3 linked regions of the Homo sapiens genome follow. The protein of the gene in region 3 purifies or fractionates together with the protein of the main gene of each other region. This does not show direct contact. Each region holds a gene or a part of one and is shown on either strand. Other genes may lie near its edges. The genes, in order: LDLRAP1, TIGAR and KLK13.

What was found.
Region 1: the proteins of KLK13 (region 3) and LDLRAP1 purify together in Homo sapiens (affinity purification with mass spectrometry; one large-scale study listed by BioGRID and IntAct). This does not show direct contact.
Region 2: the proteins of KLK13 (region 3) and TIGAR purify together in Homo sapiens (affinity purification with mass spectrometry; one large-scale study listed by BioGRID and IntAct). This does not show direct contact.

The regions. Positions count from the first base shown.
Region 1 is NC_000001.11:25,560,601-25,564,246, reverse strand, and holds part of LDLRAP1 (low density lipoprotein receptor adapter protein 1), read right to left. Parts: intron 1,604-3,646; coding exon 1,531-1,603; intron 1,178-1,530; coding exon 1,094-1,177; intron 587-1,093; coding exon 456-586; intron 1-455. UniProt on the Homo sapiens protein: Adapter protein (clathrin-associated sorting protein (CLASP)) required for efficient endocytosis of the LDL receptor (LDLR) in polarized cells such as hepatocytes and lymphocytes, but not in non-polarized cells (fibroblasts).
Region 2 is NC_000012.12:4,327,631-4,331,276, reverse strand, and holds part of TIGAR (fructose-2,6-bisphosphatase TIGAR), read right to left. Parts: intron 1-3,646.
Region 3 is NC_000019.10:51,062,172-51,066,559, forward strand, and holds the start of KLK13 (kallikrein-13 isoform 1 precursor), read right to left. Parts: upstream 2,922-4,388; 5' UTR 2,897-2,921; coding exon 2,845-2,896; intron 2,749-2,844; exon of another isoform or gene 2,427-2,748; intron 1,691-2,426; exon of another isoform or gene 1,415-1,690; intron 1-1,414.

The sequences.
Region 1 (3,646 bases), on a different chromosome or scaffold from region 3:
ACCCTTACTGAGATGAAAAAGCTGAGACAGAGAGGTCAGGGGGCTTGCCCTGAGTCCCTGAGGGAGTCAGGGACCAAGCTGGTGACTGCCCAAGTCTCTGGGTCCTCATTCAGGCGGCTGAGGGGGAGGGGTGGTAGGAGCGAGCTCTGCCACACCAAGAACAAGGGCGCCTTTGGCTGGTCTTGTGGTGGGCAGAGCCGTGGACGCTCAGGCCAAGAGGCCAAGCATTGTGAGGAGACAGCTGTGCTGGGAGCCAAGCCTGTTGGGGATGCAGCCTCAGGTTCAAAAGGGACATTGTTCATCCCCTATCCTGCGCCTGGGCACTACCGGGCTGGGTCTGGTCCTCCCAGAGGCCCACAAGTCACGGGTCCCAGGGCCTGGTCCCTGGAGCAGCCCCAGGCTCACCCAGAGGTCAGGCTGAGGATCACCGATCTGCTGGCCACACAACCACTCACCCAGACAACACTGCTGCCACTCAAGGCTTGTGGCCGCGGCACCTCGTCCATGTTGGTGGTGTTGGCGCTGACCGTGGACAGCGGGGCCTTAGCTGTCTCCTCTAAGTCCAGCAGGTTCCCAGTGGCGACCACTGTGAGGGATCCGGTCAGGTTGTCAGTGGGAGATCAGCCTCTTCCTTCCTGGCCCCCTCCCTGGGCTGTCCTGGCCCTGACCCTCCCCTCTGATGTGGCCTTGCCCAGGCCTCCCAGCAGAGCCCGGCCCTGGCACCTCCCCACAGCAGATGCGCAGCTGCCCACAGAGTGAGAACCTGACTAATGGCTTAGACTGAAACTTTTGTATTCACAATAGTTAAGTTTTCTTAAGCAACCACACAATACTATGTTAAGTATATAGAAAGATAGACGCATATTTATATATTTGCATAGGGACATATCTAGAAGAAAATGTACTAAAATGAGTTATTTCTTCCCCTTATCTACATTTTCTAATTGATCTGTAATGAACGTGTATTATTTATTTAACAAAACACAAGTGAAAAACCAAGAGGCTCTCCCAGCCCAGGCAGGAGTGGGACCCCCCTGGGTGAAGCGCAACCCCAACACCGCATGGCCAATCCCCCTTCCCCGTCAGGACTCACAGCTCTTCAAGGAGGGGGTGCAGTCTTGGCGGGCCCCCAGGACGTCCCCTCCCTCTTGGCTGGCTTTGTCCCTCTTCTCTTTCTCTGCAGGACCAAGGCACAACATGTTGGAGCCTCAGACCCCAGCACTCTGTCCCCAGCAATCACCGGGCAGGGGTGATTAGCGGTGGCCAACCTCAAGGGGCAGTTTCAGGTTTCCAGCCGGGAGGAAAGAAACCTTTCGGATGTCAGTTAATCCTCACAAGCACCTTTGGGGAGGGAGACGGCTGTTCCCATTTTTCAGATGGGAAAACCGAGACTCTGAGCGGTGAAGGGACCTGCTCACAGTCACAAGCCAGGTGGGTGATGAGGCAGGAAGTCGGTCCAGGTCTGACCCCAGGGCCTTTATGTGTCTCCCCACCTCCCACCACACCCACAATGTAGATGCAAAGTCTCACCTTCCTTGGACACCTGCCAAAACTCAAAGGCGACTTTGAAGGCCTGGGCTACGGTGAGGGTAACAGCCTGTGCCTGAAAACAGGAAGTGGGGATGGGGAGGGGTGCAGTGTCAGCCAGGGCAGAGCAAGTCTGCACTGGAGGGCTGGGGCCTCCAGGCCAGGCCCCCTGGCTCCCTCCCTGCAGCTTCTGCAGCTCCATCCCAGGCTCTGGAATGCCTGCTGGGCAGAGCAGGGTCCTGGCCCTTCCCAGGTCTCCAAAGCAGCCTGGGGTGTCATAAGGCCATAGCCTCGCAGAGGCAGTAGAGTCCCCATCTTTACTATCTCTGGCCCCACCAAAGTTCTCACTCTCACTCTAGGGCCCCTGCCTGCAAAGGCTGTTCTTCTCCAGGTCTTTTCCTTCCCCTTTGGGCTTCCCTGAATTCAATGAACTGTGAGGCTTACTTCCTCCAAGAAACCCTCCCTAATTACCTGTGGACTTAGCCCTTGGAATTGGAGAACAGAAAAGCCAGAATTGGAAGGGCCCAGCCATTGCCCCAAATGAGCCACAGCCAGAGAGGTGAAAGTTAGGTTCCGGTTGGGACCATAACTGGATCCCACAAAGAGAGTAGAAGGCTTGTCAATTTCCTGATAGGAGCAAGATGTCAATGAAGGCCCGGGGACCAAAACCGGTCAGTGCTATAACCCACCTGTAAGGAAGGGCCACACCTCGGCCCTTCACCCCAGGGGAACTCTCCCTCACCCCTCCAAACCCAACTCAGATGTCACCACCTCTCCTGTCACCAGTCCCAGACTCCTCGAGCCCCACCCACCTCCCTCTGGCACTATGCATGTGAAAGTGTCACTGGCTCCCCTGCCTGTGTTTCCCCCAGCTTTGTGCACCCTAAAAGCAAGAATCAATCTGAACACCCCTGCCCTCGGGAGCAGGCCAAAGCCTCCCAGAGGTGGCAACAATGCTGGGTGAATTACATTCACCTGAGGTGCAGGCCTCATTCCACCCAGGACCTATCCCCAGCCCATATTCATCTCAACACCTTCCTCTCTCAGCCATTCCAGTCCAGGGTTAATCAGCTCAGCTTCTGGGAGTGGAAGTCCCAGAGTTCGTAGCTATAGCCGGAAACATCTAGCTTCCTTCTGAAGCCCTGGCTGAGAGAAGAAAGCACCAGCCTCTTTCAAGTCTACAAGTTCAGGCCTCACCAGCCTCAGCCCCGCTCCCTGCCCTCCCCCAGACAACTCAATTTAATTGAGAAATGGACCTGTGGCCACTGCCTTTAAAACTCCTTTTAAAAAAATATTTAAAATTCCTAAACAAACTGACTGATCCGTGCCAATTACACTTCACGAAAGTATAAAACCTCATTTGAATGTCTCCAACATTTACATTTTTGATGGAAGTACAGGCACTTTATGGCAAAACTTAAATATGGTAATTAAGTATGAAACTCTTCGCAGCTGTTTACAATTTAAGCTGTCATATCTGAATCAAGTTTAATAGACCCAGTTACCATTGAGAATTGCCCATGAACTAAAAATATGGGCTAATTACCAGCCCAAGTCAGATCACTATCCACCCAAGCAAGGGCTGGACACCCAATGTGGCAGGGATATGAAAACGCCATTATTTAAGCCTGCTGGAAATCTGGAGACACAAGCTTAGACTGTAGTTGCATAAATCTGATTGTTCACTTGCATACATTCCTACCTTTTTGCCCTGAAGTCCCAAGCTGTAAGTTAAACTGAATACAACCCAAGAGGTGGATGTGTGCAGGTAGCTGCAAGCCCAGGCTGGGCAGGGACTGGGAGTGGGGTGGGCCCTGCTTCCTGGGGTGGCTGCAGGGATCCGAGGACCAGCATTAGGTGGAGGGACTGCTCAGGCCTGCCCAGGCGGGATGCCCACCCCTCCTGACTGCCTCTGGCCTTCGGGTCTGCCTTATTATCCTGAGTGGATGCTACCTTGCCCAGTTTTTCACATTCCTTGTTCCCAGGAACCAGGCTGCTCATGGCTCAAAAGGGGCCAGAAACTCAAACCAAGACAGCCACATGCCCCCCAGCAGCCCTGCTGCCCCAGAAGCAAAAACCTTGCACAAGGATCACTCCAAGATGCCAATGGTCATGGGGG
Region 2 (3,646 bases), on a different chromosome or scaffold from region 3:
AAATAGAAAGAGAAGGACAACCTTATTAGCCAAATTATACTGTTTTTGAGAGGAGGAAAAAAATGAGCAATCAAGTGTGGTGATACTCTAAAAATATCATGTGAAACTTGTAACACACTTCATAATCCAACCTGTAAAAACAATTTATTCTAAACTAATATTTGCAATTGTCTTCTTTAATGAAGAGCTAAGAATTTCAAACTACTCCAAACTAAAACGTGTAGATCAGGAACCAATCTTAAGTGAATTGCAGGTGGAAAATCCTACTAAAAAATATAATGCAAATAACATTTCAGCCAAATAATTTTGTTAAAAGAAATATATTGATCAAAACTACTCTTACTGGCAGCAGGAACAAAAACGTGAGAGTCAGTCTATTCATTGCTGGACTGAATGAGCAAGTGAAAGAGAATCTGAATGGAATGGGAGAGACGTGCACAAACCTTCAGAACCCCCTGCCTTCTCTTAGTTCCTAGGTCTTCAGCAGTTATTTTTTGTAGTACTGACAGCTATCTCGCAGACCAACTAACTGCACACTGAACTGAGGTTTGAGTACTACACTTTTAAAAACTAAAATACCAAAACAAATCAAAGCAATCTGAACCAACCGGAAGGGTAAAAGAACTGGAAACTTTGTCAGAAAATAACTGGGGTTACTGAGGCTGGAGGGGGAAAAGGGCGGGAAGTGCATGGGCAAGACTGGACAGACAGCAGGATAGGTTAACAATAATGCAACTTTCAAATACATGAAAAGTAGAATCAAAGAGAATTCAGCTGAAATTTCTTTGAGCACTAATTAAATGTTTGCTGACCCAACCTACCACTAGAATTGCTGGGCCATAAGGTATGCAAATACCAGCTTTATTAGGTAATGCCAGTGTCATAGCAGGTTACACCACCCTGTAGTGTGGTGTACCACCCTCAACAAGATTCAGTGATGGAAGGTTTCTTCAATTTGTACCAATCTGGTACCTGAACAATTCATCTCACTTTAATTTTAATTTGCATTTCCTTGATTTCGATGGAAAATGATCGCTCCATTGTTTTTAAGTGAAGCACTAGTTTATAATAATTAAAATGTCACATAGGACTGATTTACTCAGATCTAGAAAAAAAAATCTACCAGACCTGGAAGTCAGAATCACAAACTCAGGCCTCATCCTGGAATCTTGCCGCTTGTTTACAAAAACAGCTGTATGCCAACCTCTGCCAAGATACAGATTGCTGGATTTGGCCAATATGAATGTTCTTTAAGACCCAACACAAGACTGGTTCTTTTAGGTAGTCTCCCTCCCCAGTACCATTCCCCATCTACCTACTCTATTTAATACCCACACTCTATACTCCCATGGTCCCCTGGCACTACCAACATAAGTTTTCATCTGTGTGCTAATTGACTTTTTAGCTCTGTGTCTATCCTGGCTCCAGTTCCTTAAAGGCACAAGCAGGGATTGCATACCCTCAACATGCCCAGGGCCTGGAGAAAATGCTGGGAAATGACAGAACTTCAGTGAATGTGCTTTTACCTAGGGAGGGTCATCTGGAAATACCTATCAAAATGACAAATCTGTTTACCCTTTTATCCAATAACCCAATTACTGGGAATAACTGAATTCACTCATATTTAAAAGATTATTTGTGGCCAGACGTGGTGGCTCATGCCCGTAATTCCAGCACATTGGGAGTCCGAGGTGGGTAGATCACGATGTCAGGAGTTCAAGCCCAGCATGGCCAAGATGATGAAACCCCATCTCTACTAAAAATACAAAATTTAGCCATGCGTGGTGGCGGGCGTCTGTAATCCCAGCTACTCGGGAGACTGAGGCACAAGAATTGTTTAAACCCGGGAGGCAGAGGTTGCAGTGAGCTGCAATCACACCACTGCACTCCAGTATGGGTGAGAGAGCAAGACCCTGTCTCACAAAAAAAAAAAAAAAAAAAAAAAAAAGATCATTAGCTACAGTATTATTTCTAATAGCAACAGATTATAAACAACCCAAATGTCCATAACTCATTCCTTAACTATGGCCAGAATAACCATTATTTATATTAACAAATAAACAGTGACATATCTACCTAATGGAATCCTATGTAAATGTGTCCTTTAAAGAGAGAGATTATATGTAAAGATATGGAATGCTCACCAAGATATATGATTAAGTAGAAAAAGCAGGGTATAGAGTAATATAAAAAGAAAGCTACCCTTTTAGAAAGGAGGGAAATAAACATCTGGATCTGCACAAAGAAACAATGGAAGGATAAACATGAAACTAATAAATGTGGCCACCTATTGGTTGGGGGAAGAATAGGAAGACTACGGAGAATTGTTTTGATTTCTAAATATGTAGATGTATTAGCTTAAAAAATAAACGTATGATAAAGAAATAAAATTACACAGAACTGGCCAGGCACGGTGGCTCACGCCTGTAATCCCAGCACTTTGGGAGGCCGAGGTGGGCAGATCACGAGGTCAGGAGTTCGGGACCAGCCTGGCCAACAAGGTGAAACTCCGTCTCTGATAAAAATACAAAAATCAGCCAGGCATGGTGGTGAGTGCCTGTAGTCCCAGCTACTCGGGAGGCTGAGGCAGAAGAATCGCTTGAACCTGGGAGGTGGAGGTTGCAGTGAGCCAAGATCATGCCACTGCACTTCAGCCTGGGCAACAGAGCAAGACTCTGTCTCCAAAAAAAAAAAAAAATACATGGAACTATTTATACCTTGGTAAAAAACCAACAGCACTGATTTGCCATTATCATTGTTGTTAATATTAATAAAAGATTACCTAGGCCACATGCAGTGGCTCATGCCTGTAATCCCAGCACTTTGGGAGGCCAAGGAGGGCAGATCACCTGAGGTCAGGAGTCCGAGACCATCCTGGCCAACATGGTAGAATCCTGTGTCTACTAAAAATACAAAAATTAGCCAGGCGTGGTGGCAGGCACCTGTAATCCCAGCTATTCGGGAGGCTGAGGCAGGAGAATGACTTGAACCCAGGAGGTGGAGGTTGCAGTGAGCCAAGATCATGCCATTGCACTCCAGCCTGGGCGACAAAAGCAAGACCTCATCTCAAAAAAAAAGATTTCCTACACTCCAAAATTCATTCAGAATCTTATAAAATGGGCATGAAAGAGGATATTAGCCTCTACCATTCAGATGGATAAAGCAGAAGCATTCAGGGCAAACATGGGGAACCTGTCATTTTTAATCTAGAAAATAGTTACCATGTATTGGATTCACTTCCTGTCTCAGCCTCAAAATCTTGCTGAGACCAAGAATAAAATATCTGTTATTTCAATATAAGTAACATCCTCGGCTGGGCGCGGTGGCTCATGCCTGTAATCCCAGCACTTTGGGAGGCCGAAGCAGGCGGATCATGAGGTCAGGAGTTTGAGACCAGCCTGGCCAATATGGTGAAACCCCGTCTCTACCAAAAATACAAAAATTAGCTGGGCGTGGTGGTGTGTGCCTGTAGTCCCAGCGACTCGGGAGGCTGAGGCAGAAGAATCGCTTGAACCCAGGAGGCGGAGGCTGCAGTGAGCCGAGATTGCGCCCTCAAAAACAAAACAAAACAAGTAACATCCTCGCTAGACAGTGGCTTGTAGCCCTTAATTTAAACCTGGCCTAAAACTGCCTCCATGCCTAGGGA
Region 3 (4,388 bases):
TTGGACAGCACAGATATAGGATATTTCATATATACATATATGGAATATTCTACTGGATGACCCTCAGAATTTAGAGGTTGTATGTCTGGGTCCTTCTTAATTCTGAGAGGTCAGCTCAAATGTCTCCTCTTCAGAAAGGCCTTCCCTGACCACCTGGTCTAATGTTGACTCTCCTGGTCCCGACTCCTCCCCCATTACATTCTTCCAGTTGGTCTTCATCAGAACAATGATTGCTATTCATTTCTCTTCACATTTGTATGTATTCGTTTTTAAAAATCTCTCCACTTTGACTGTAAGCTCCATTGACAACAGGCACCTTAACTGCTTTATTCAGTACCATATTCCCAGGACCTAACACAGCGCCTGGCACACAATGGGGGCTCAATAAATAAATGCTGTGTGTGCCAGGCACTGTGTCTGGCATTGAAAGCACAGCAGGGGTCCGTGGGACAGGGAGAATCCAATCCTGAACATGCATGCCATTTTGTGACTGTGTGACCTTATGCAAATCACCAGCCTCAGTTTCCCCAGCTGTCAAGTAGAAAAAGTAATAGTTCATCTCTCATTGCGCAGTTGAAGAATTCAAGATGATCCTGCATTTCAAACCGTGCAGCACAGCAGGTGGCATGGAGAGCACTCAGTCAGTGGGAAATGTTATTATTAATTATTAGCTACAACAGGAGGTCCCTCTGCCTCCCTAGCTAGTTTCCCCAACTACAGGGCAAGCAGTTGGATTAGCTCAGTGGTTTGCAGTTAGGGACAGAAGTTGTCGGTGAGCACAGGATCATTTTAGATGGTAGAGAGATGAGATTTAAGTAACGTTAAATCGCACACTCAGACGCTGAACCAGCATCCAGTTCTCTTTTAAACCTGATTTTGTCAAGGATAAAGTCTCAGGATGGTGCTAATATGGTTTTAACACCTCCCTAATCCTCACTGAGCTCACTTTTCAAAGCCAGGAGGACACAGAAGCCTCATCAGGCCACCTAACATTTATTACACTGAACCATCTGCAAAAGTTGTTTTAGGAAGGTCAAAAAGGGTCAAGTATCAGCAATTTCAGGTGGTCCAACCCAATAAACATATTATTTTCTTTTCATTGTGCAGGATTTATTTCCTTCCTTACCTTCTATTTATGACAAAGAATTCTATTCTCTATTCAGGACAGTAATATAAAGTTGAACATGCTTTTGTTTGAGTGAAAAAAGAAGAAAAAAAGCTAACTTTAAGCAAATGATTAGGTCAAAAGTTATAAAAATGGTTTTCAGAGCCTCAAGTCCAGGATATGGACAGGGAAAACAACCTTGATTAGGATTCTGACTCAGGCATCGCCGGTGTCATTGGAGCAGGAGCCTTCTGTCTTTGAGTCCTAGGTTTCTCTGCCATGAAATTGGAGTAATTACAATGCACCTACCTCGCCAGGTTGTTGAGGACTCCACAAGGCGTAGCGTGTGGGTCTCCTAGCCTAGGGTGTGGCACTCAGGAGTGGCACGGGCATGAATCCAGGGAGTGTCGCCAGAGGAGAAAAGCCACCCCACCTTCAGGCCAAGGATGGTGCCAGGTGCCAGGCACCCACAGATCCCTCCTTTTTCAGGTCTTGGCTCAAGGGTCAAGCCCTTTGGGAAGGCCTCTGGTCGGGAAGCCGCCATTACATCTCTAGGCCCCTGGCTTGGCTCCTTGAAGTCTTCACCTCATGTCAAGATAATTATTAACTAATTATTTGGATAATTGTTTGAATAACATCTGCGTCTGTCCCCGCTAGACTCCAGGTGCTGAGAGCAGGGACTGTGTCTCTGCTTGTACAGCACCCAGCACAGTGGCCGGTGTTTAATAGCTGTTTGTTGAATGAATAAATGATTCATGAACGGGGTTTCCAGAGAACCTGCCTACAACGGCAGGGAAAGATGGGAAAGATCCATAAGGATCTTAAGGACTACCAATTTGGGGTGAGGTCACATAGGTTTGGGGTCAACCCAAGGATTAAAATAACAATCTAGAAGGTTCTGGAAGGGGCTGAGTATGAAGACAGAATACTAGAGGCCGGGCTCGGTGGCTCATGCCTGTAATCCTGGCACTTTGGGAGGCTGACGCGGGCTACTTGAAGTTAGAAGTTCGAGACCAGCCTAACCAACATGGCGAAACCCCGTCTCTGCTGAAAATACAAAAATTAGTTGGGCGTGGTGGCGGGCGCCTGTAATCCCAGCTACTCGGGAGGCTGAGGCAGGAGAATCGCTTCAACCCGGGAGGCGGAGGTTTCAGTAAGCCAAGATCGTGCCACTGCCTTCCAGCCTGGGAGACAGAGCAAGGTTCCATCTCAAAAAAAAAAAAAAAAAAAAAAAGGAATACTACTAATAAAGTAATAACGGCTAAGTGGCTAACTTTCAAGTCCCTTCTACCTGCGACATACTGAAGGCTCGACGCATTACCTCGTTTCAATATTCACAGTGACCTTCTCTGGTAAGCACTTATAGATTAAGCCCATTTTCCAGATGAAAACAATTTAGGCACAAAGCAGCTGCTAGGCTACTGGCTCAAAGCGGCAGCGTCAGGACGCGAACCCATGTCTTTCAGCTTTCCAGAGAGGACAGGAAGCCTTGAACGCGGGAGGGGCTGCTGCGAGGGTATTTTGGGAGGTGAAGGGTCTGGGGTCGGAGGGCCAACCTCAGCCGGGAAACCAGGTCACCCAGGGACAAGCAGGAAGAGCTCTGAGCTGTCCCCACTGGACCCGGCCCCGAGTGGGCGGGGGGCGGAGCTCGCGGCTCCCACGCCCCCTCCCCCTCCGGCCTGACCCCTCCTACCATTGTCCCGAATGGCCGCCGCGCCTCCACCCCCGCGCATTCTTACCTCCTGACAAGGCCAAGGTCAGGGAGGCGATCACTAGGGCCAGGGGCCACATGGCTCCGGGATCGGGAGGGGAGGGCAGGGCGGGCGGGGCCTGAGGAGAAGGTGAAGGGGGTGTTGAGGGCGTGCCCGGAACCTCCGCGTCTGAAACCTCTCTGCTCCTGAATGTCTCCTCGCCTCATTCACTCTTGACAGCCCTGACCCTGGAATCTGCCCCCCGCCTCCAATTCCATCCTTGGTGGGGGTGCAGTGGCGAGGTGGGAGGAACAGTGTGCAACCTCCTGGGGCTCCGGCGTGCAGCCCCTCACCCCAGGAAGCCGTCCCTCCTCCCCTGCCCTCTGGCGAGCTGGGTGGTCGGTGCACTCTCGCCCTTTTCCTCCAGAGTCTGCCTTCCATTCTACCCCTCTGGGTCTGTCCACACGCTTGGTATTAGCCCAAGTTCTTATCTGTCCGCGCCCTTCGCCTCTCTCCGTCTCTGCAGGTTTCTCTCTAGATCTGAGACTCTAGCTTCACTCTCCCTCTCCCTGACTCAGCTGCCCTTCTGCTTTCCCCATCCTTCCTATCCCCTCTTCTCTCCCCTCCCTGCCCTCCTCCGCTCCCCGCCCCCGCCCCAGGCAGACCCTACCTGAGTGAGGGGCCCACGAGGAGCGTCAGCCGCCAGCTGTCTAGAACTTCAGCCCCGAACCATGGCTTTTAACCCCTGAACTCCCTCCCCCAGCTCACTCAGCATTTCCTGGTCCCTGGCCTCCCCCTCTCCACCCCCAGTGGCTCAGCGGGATGTCTCCAGGCACCCCCGACCTGGGCTTGGCCCTCTGCTTGGGGCGGAGCTTCCAGGACGTGCTGGGACCTAGGTCTGACCCCGCCCAAGGCAGAGTTGAACCCACTGTGAACTTTCAGGCCTCAGGACCCAAAAAAGGGTAAGGGGAAAGCCCATTTCCTTCCCCCTACCCCGCTGAGTTCCATGCCCATCCCTAACTTCAACCCATTCTGCACCCAGTTTTCTAACCTCTTCTCCAACCCCATGCATAATTCTTAATAGGCAGTCAGCCCCCAGATGGCCGTGTTCTATCAGATTCCCACCTCCCTATCCATCCCTAACCATACCAAGTACTCCAGCCTGTTCCTCAACCCCAGTCCCATCTCCAACCTCATCTCAGGTTTAGCTCTCAACACATCCAGGTTCCAATTCCCAGTCTCATCTCAACCCTTTTTCTTTTGAAAGACACAAGGACACCCACAATTATCCCATCATCCTGCCTCCCTGCTCCCGCCAACCACCGGACACAAGAAGGAAATCATCAGCTGGGTGGATAGAAAATCAGCTCCCTCGGACTTGGATGGGGGCAGAGATGCGACCTGAGAAAGCAACATTTTCCAGAAATGGCCTTTTAGGAGCAGGGCCAGAGGGGGTGAGGGAGTCCACGGGGACCTAGGTGGAGAGGAAAAAGCAGGAGCCGGAAAGCTTTGAAGACGTGGATTGGGGGTGGGGGAGAGGAAGGAGGAAGGGGTGGTGTTTTGAGAATGAGTAGGTGTCTCCAGGAACTATG